Homo sapiens: one gene and its partner. The protein of the gene in region 1 purifies or fractionates together with the protein of each later gene. This does not show direct contact. Each region holds a gene or a part of one and is shown on either strand. Other genes may lie near its edges.

Region 1 (3,416 bases):
GCCATTGCACTCCAGCCTAGGCAACAAGAGCGAAACTCCCATCTCAAGAATGATATGCTCCTTTTTTTTTTTTTTTTTTTTTTTGAAAAGGAGCCTTGCTCTGTCGCCCAGGCTGGAGTGCAATGACGCAATCTCAGCTCACTGCAAACTCTGCCTCCCGGGTTCAAGTGATTCTCCTGCCTCAGCCTCCCGAGTAGCTGAGACTACAGGCCCGTGCCACCACGCCCGGCTAATTTTTGTATTTTTAGTAGAGACGGGGTTTCATTGTGTTAGCCAGGATGGTCTTGATCTCCTGACCTTGTGATCCTCCCGCCTCGGCCTCCCAAAGTGCTAGGATTACAGGCGTGAGCCACCACGCCCGGCCTGGAATGTGGTCCTTCTTAAAACTAAATTTATATTTTTTGAAATTCCAAAATTATATCTTTCATGTGATAAAATGAGATAATTGAGAACACATTTGGTGTTGTGGTCTCTTAAGATCTTGCCTAACAAAATAAAAGTACAAAAAAATTGAGCAAATATTTTCCCCTTATTTGTACTTGTCAATGAAGACCCCATGTATGTACTTATATGTTTTTCTTGTTCGTTACTTGCTCCAGTGGTTTGGAAATTTTGGTTATCCTGAGAATTCTCTGGGACCCTGTTAGACATGTAGATTCTTGCTAGGGCATACTTGCTTAAGAGATTCTGGCGTCAGTACCTAATCCTTAAATTACTTTGCAATCATCCAGTTACTATGTAGGTTGAGACCCTACAAGAAGGAATGATTCATTCAATGAGATGTACATCCTTGATCCCAGAAACTTTGGAACTAAGTATTCAGTTTCTTCAATAAACAGAGCACTTCTTGTTTCATAGCTTTTGGGGGTTGGCCTGAACAAATCAACTAAGTATGACCTAGTTTCTATAGCGTTCTGAACAATTTACAGAGTGAATTCCTGGCTGTTCACAAATTGGGAATTGACTGCATTCTTTGGAGAGCCAGGTGTTTCCACCGGGAAACCCCATGACAGGTACTCAGCCCAATTCTGTTTAATGTTTTATTAAACATAGGGGTGGGTTAAACCACTGGGTTTTAAATGAAGCACTTAGAGCTTTTCAACTTGCCCCATAGCTTTGTCTCAGAACCGATCATTCTATTATCATTAGTTTTGAGAATGCCGTGTAAAGAGCAAAGTAACCACTGGTGGTTGCACTCCGGAGCGGGCGAGGACGGCTAGTTCCTGCAGTGCCCAGGCCTGCACGGAAGCGCCCTGGCACAACTCAGCTGAGGATACACGCTTTTTCCCGCGCAGCCGGAGGGCTGAACAGCAAAGCACTCCCCGGGGGAACTGTGTGTCAGCGCAGCCTGGAGAGAGCAGGCCCAGGGGGCAGCTCCACCACAGGAGACAGGACACGCCTCAGTCTGGGCAAATTCCCGGCCTCCTTTGGCTCTAAGCCAGCAGCCGCCGCCCGCGACCTCCTCTCCTCCTCCGTCGTCACCCCGGCCGCCCTGCCAGCCCCGAACTTGCCCGCGCCTGGCCGCGCGGCCCCTCAGCCCACGGGGCTGGCGGCGCGGTTGGGATGGGACCGATGTGGCGCATGCGTGGTGGCGCCACTAGGCGCGGGAGTTGCTGCGGCGGGGACGGTGCTGCGGACGGCCGAGGGCCAGGCCGCTCCGGCCGGGCTCGTGGTGGGGGCAGCCCCAGCGGCGGCGGCGGCGGCGTGGGCTGGCGAGGCCGCGCGGACGGCGCCCGACAGCAGCTGGAGGAGCGGTTTGCCGACCTGGCGGCGAGCCACTTGGAGGCCATCCGTGCGCGGGACGAGTGGGACCGGCAGAACGCGCGGCTGCGTCAGGAGAACGCCCGGCTGCGGCTCGAGAACCGGCGGCTGAAGCGCGAGAACCGCAGCCTCTTCCGTCAGGCTTTGCGGCTCCCCGGCGAAGGCGGCAACGGGACGCCCGCGGAGGCACGCCGGGTCCCTGAAGAGGCCAGCACGAACCGGAGGGCTAGAGACAGCGGCCGAGAGGACGAGCCGGGCAGCCCCAGGGCCCTGAGGGCCCGACTTGAGAAGCTGGAAGCCATGTACCGCCGGGCCCTGCTGCAGCTGCACCTCGAGCAGCGGGGACCACGTCCGAGCGGGGACAAGGAGGAGCAGCCTCTACAGGAACCCGACTCCGGCCTCCGCTCCCGGGACTCGGAGCCCTCTGGGCCCTGGCTGTAGCCGAGGCCGCAGCCGGTGAGAGGCGGAGCCTCGAGCGGGCCCCTCCTCCTCCGTTCCCAGCTACCCCCGACCTCGCGCACGCCCTGGCCCGCTCCCTGCCCGCGGATACCTTGGACTACGGTGCCTTCCCGCCCCCACCAGTGGACACTTCCGGGTGGCGCTTGGCCATCCGCTTGGTGGAGGTCGAGTGGGTGCAAGGGCCCTCAGGACCTCCCACATGTACAGTTCCCCTGCCTCTTGCCCCGGCTAGTTTCCCTGGAGAGAGGCCTAGCCAACAACGAAGGGACGGATTTTAAAACAGCGAGAACTGGGTGCCAAGAAACACTTCATATTCCCTGAACTTTTCTGGATGTTGTGCGAACCTGTTGTATTTTTTTTTTTCCTGTATTTTGGTTCTGAGGGATGAGTAATGTGTTTTTAGTTGGTTGAGTTTATCCATTCTTCAATCCCCTAAAGCCTTCAGCTATTCTTTCATATGTGGCCAACATTTTAAGTACAGTGTTTGCTTTTATAAGTCGGTGTTACTTGGATGTCCTATAAAATACCCACTTTTTATAAAGATGATATTTATAACCTAGGAACTCATGCCTGTCTTGGCTGCAGTCCCTGTACATCTAATATATACTGATTTGTTTGCCCCCAGAGAATTTTTAAGGTATCTGCCTATATCGTGATCTTTTGAAATGGTAAATAAATCTGGTGCATTAAAAATTATCTGAAAGGTTGCGGCGAGTATTATTTGAAGTGTGTTACATTTTTATATTTTTAAAAAGATACCTTTATGAATATACTAATTTAAATCTGGTTTTAGTTGTCCTTAGTAAACTATCATGTTCTTTTAGCTTCATGTAACAGTGATCTTTTAAAATAATCTAAAGATTAGGTAGTCTAAAAGTTATTTTAATCTTTAATGTTCAATTAGCTTAATTAGTACGTAGATAATTTGCCTTATTTTGACTAAGGACTTTTAAGAAATTATAAATTACTTGTATATCAAAAGTTCCCCTAACAAAGTAATTTAAGTCTCAGTTGTTATTTCAATGGCACAAAAAAGTGACTAGTTTAGCAATAAATGTCCTAAAATTACTTTTATTGCGCTTCGTTAATAACACTTTTGCCAACTAAGTAATGAAGAGGATACCATTGTGCCTGATAAAAAAATCATAGGTCCAAGAGTGTTTCAATGATGGAAAACATTTCAGGGGAAAAAATCA
Region 2 (3,500 bases), on another chromosome or scaffold:
CAGGAGAAGGAAATAAAGGGTATTCAATTAGGAAAAGAGGAAGTCAAATTGTCCCTGTTTGCAGACGACATGATTGTTTATCTAGAAAACCCCATCGTCTCAGCCCAAAATCTCCTTAAGCTGATAAGCAACTTCAGCAAAGTCTCAGGATACAAAATCAATGTACAAAAATCACAAGCATTCTTATACACCAACAACAGACAAACAGAGAGCCAAATCATGGGTGAACTCCCATTCACAATTGCTTCAAAGAGAATAAAATACCTAGGAATCCAACTTACAAGGGATGTGAAGGACCTCTTCAAGGAGAACTACAAACCACTGCTCAAGGAAATAAAAGAGGACACAAACAAATGGAAGAACATTCCATGCTCATGGGTAGGAAGAATCAATATCGTGAAAATGGCCATACTGCCCAAGGTAATTTACAGATTCAATGCCATCCCCATCAAGCTACCAATGACTTTCTTCACAGAATTGGAAAAAACTACTTTAAAGTTCATATGGAACCAAAAAAGAGCCCGCATCGCCAAGTCAATCCTAAGCCAAAAGAACAAAGCTGGAGGCATCACACTACCTGACTTCAAACTATACTACAAGGCTACAGTAACCAAAACAGCATGGTACTGGTACCAAAACAGAGATATAGATCAATGGAACAGAACAGAGCCCTCAGAAATAATGCCGCATATCTACAACTATCTGATCTTTGACAAACCTGAGAAAAACAAGCAATGGGGAAAGGATTCCCTATTTAATAAATGGTGCTGGGAAAACTGGCTAGCCATATGTAGAAAGCTGAAACTGGATCCCTTCCTTACACCTTATACAAAAATCAATTCAAGATGGATTAAAGATTTAAACGTTAGACCTAAAACCATAAAAACCCTAGAAGAAAACCTAGGCATTACCATTCAGGACATAGGCGTGGGCAAGGACTTCATGTCCAAAACACCAAAAGCAATGGCAACAAAAGCCAAAATTGACAAATGGGATCTAATTAAACTAAAGAGCTTCTGCACAGCAAAAGAAACTACCATCAGAGTGAACAGGCAACCTACAACATGGGAGAAAATTTTCGCAACCTACTCATCTGACAAAGGGCTAATATCCAGAATCTACAATGAACTCAAACAAATTTACAAGAAAAAAACAAACAACCCCATCAAAAAGTGGGCGAAGGACATGAACAGACACTTCTCAAAAGAAGACATTTATGCAGCCAAAAAACACATGAAGAAATGCTCATCATCACTGGCCATCAGAGAAATGCAAATCAAAACCACTATGAGATATCATCTCACACCAGTTAGAATGGCAATCATTAAAAAGTCAGGAAACAACAGGTGCTGGAGAGGATGTGGAGAAATAGGAACACTTTTACACTGTTGGTGGGACTGTAAACTAGTTCAACCATTGTGGAAGTCAGTGTGGCGATTCCTCAGGGATCTAGAACTAGAAATACCATTTGACCCAGCCATCCCATTACTGGGTATATACCCAAAGGACTATAAATCATGCTGCTATAAAGACACATGCACACGTATGTTTATTGCGGCACTATTCACAATAGCAAAGACTTGGAACCAACCCAAATGTCCAACAATGATAGACTGGATTAAGAAAATGTGGCACATATACACCATGGAATACTATGCAGCCATAAAAAATGATGAGTTCATATCCTTTGTAGGGACATGGATGAAATTGGAAACCATCATTCTCAGTAAACTATCGCAAGAACAAAAAACCTAACACCGCATATTCTCACTCATAGGTGGGAATTGAACAATGAGATCACATGGACACAGGAAGGGGAATATCACACTCTGGGGACTGTGGTGGGGTCGGGGGGAGGGGGGAGGGATAGCATTGGGAGATATACCTAATGCTAGATGACACATTAGTGGGTGCAGTGCACCAGCATGGCACATGTATACATATGTAACTAACCTGCACAATGTGCACATGTACCCTAAAACTTAGAGTATAATAAAAAAAAAAAAAAAGAAAGGAAAAAAAAAATAAATAAATAAATAAAAATAAAAATAGGGTCTTTGCAGATGTTATCAAGTTAAGATGAAGTCATATTGGATTAGAGTGGCCCCTAATCCAACAAGACTGTTGTCCTTATAAGAAGACGTATAGACACACACAGGAAAGAATGCCCTGTGAAGATGAAGGCAGAGACCAGATGATGTGTCTATAGCCAAGGAAGGCTGAGCATCGTTGGCCACCACGGGAAACCAGAAGAAAGGCAAGGAACAGATTCTCCATGAAGACTTCAAGAGGAACCAACCCTGCTGGCATCTGGATTTCAGACTTCTGGCTTCCAGAACTGTGGAAGAAGACATCTCGTTGTTTTAAAGCCACCCAGTTTGTGGTACTTTATTACAGCAGACCTAGGAGGGTAATACAGGTGATGAAACTACAAAGATAAATTTTAAGAAACAAAGTTCCTGTCCTGGAGACTTTAGTATTCATTTTATCCCAATAAAGTAGCTGGATGAGAGTCCAGATCTAATATTGATGGCCTAGGGTCAAGCTTCCGAAGAGCTATACTTTGTTAGACAAGTACATTGTCTACTGGGTCCAGCTAGGAACCCACGCCTAGGGATAGTTTAGATGCGCAGGGAGAGTGAGGTGATGGCTGTCCCTGCCACAATTATGTCAGGCCCCTGTCACTCACACGGCACAGTACTGGAGACTGTGAAAGTGAGGATGGCAAGATGGCGGTGGAAGCAAGAAAAGACGTCCTGGAAAAAGGAAAGCTGGGCTGGTGTCTCTTCCTAGGCTTCTTCCAAATTCACCATTCCACATTCCTGCTGTTAATTTCTCCACCCTTTCTCTTCACATTTTAAGTTTGTACTCTGGTTCTTCTCATGCCTTCGCAGCCTAGCGGACTAGAAAAAGCATTTTGGTGATTAGAAAACCAGACTTTGAGCTCTAGCCTCATCACTTACCAGCTGTGGGATTTTGAGCAAATAACAGTAACTCTCTGTGCTTCAGTTTATTAATCCATACAATGGGGATATATGTAATTCACAGCATTGCACACAATGCAATGTAATAAGCGAGCATTTTAAGTTCTACAAGAAGGTCAGAGCTCTCACTATGCACAATTCCTAGACCTTATGCAGAGAAACACTGGTCTTAGACAGTACAGATCAGGATATACCAGAAAGTTGGCACAAAAAATAAAAACAATAAATGAGATGCTACGTTTAAAGGAGGTATAAAGAGCACAGACCCAGGAGTCCACAGGATCTTGACCCCAACACGGAAGAGCTCTGTGATATTGGACAAGTAGTTCCTATCTCCTGACTTAAGTGATTTGAGTTTCCACCCAACTTTAACATTCTATGACTTTATGAAAATACGCACATCAAGCTGTTTGCTCAATATAAAATTACACTTTAAAAAGAGATCTTTACTTATGGGCCACTCATTACAAATATGGGAAAAACTGTGATGCTTGAGGGAATTCTTATAACAAGTGA

What was found. The genes of interacting proteins can lie anywhere in the genome.
Region 2: the proteins of TUSC1 (region 1) and PRMT8 purify together in Homo sapiens (co-immunoprecipitation; one large-scale study listed by IntAct). This does not show direct contact.

The regions. Positions count from the first base shown.
Region 1 is NC_000009.12:25,676,469-25,679,884, reverse strand, and holds TUSC1 (tumor suppressor candidate gene 1 protein), read left to right. Parts: upstream 1-1,440; 5' UTR 1,441-1,572; coding exon 1,573-2,202; 3' UTR 2,203-2,916; downstream 2,917-3,416.
Region 2 is NC_000012.12:3,497,703-3,501,202, reverse strand, and holds part of PRMT8 (protein arginine N-methyltransferase 8), read right to left. Parts: intron 1-3,500. UniProt on the Homo sapiens protein: S-adenosyl-L-methionine-dependent and membrane-associated arginine methyltransferase that can both catalyze the formation of omega-N monomethylarginine (MMA) and asymmetrical dimethylarginine (aDMA) in proteins such as NIFK, myelin basic protein, histone H4, H2A and H2A/H2B dimer.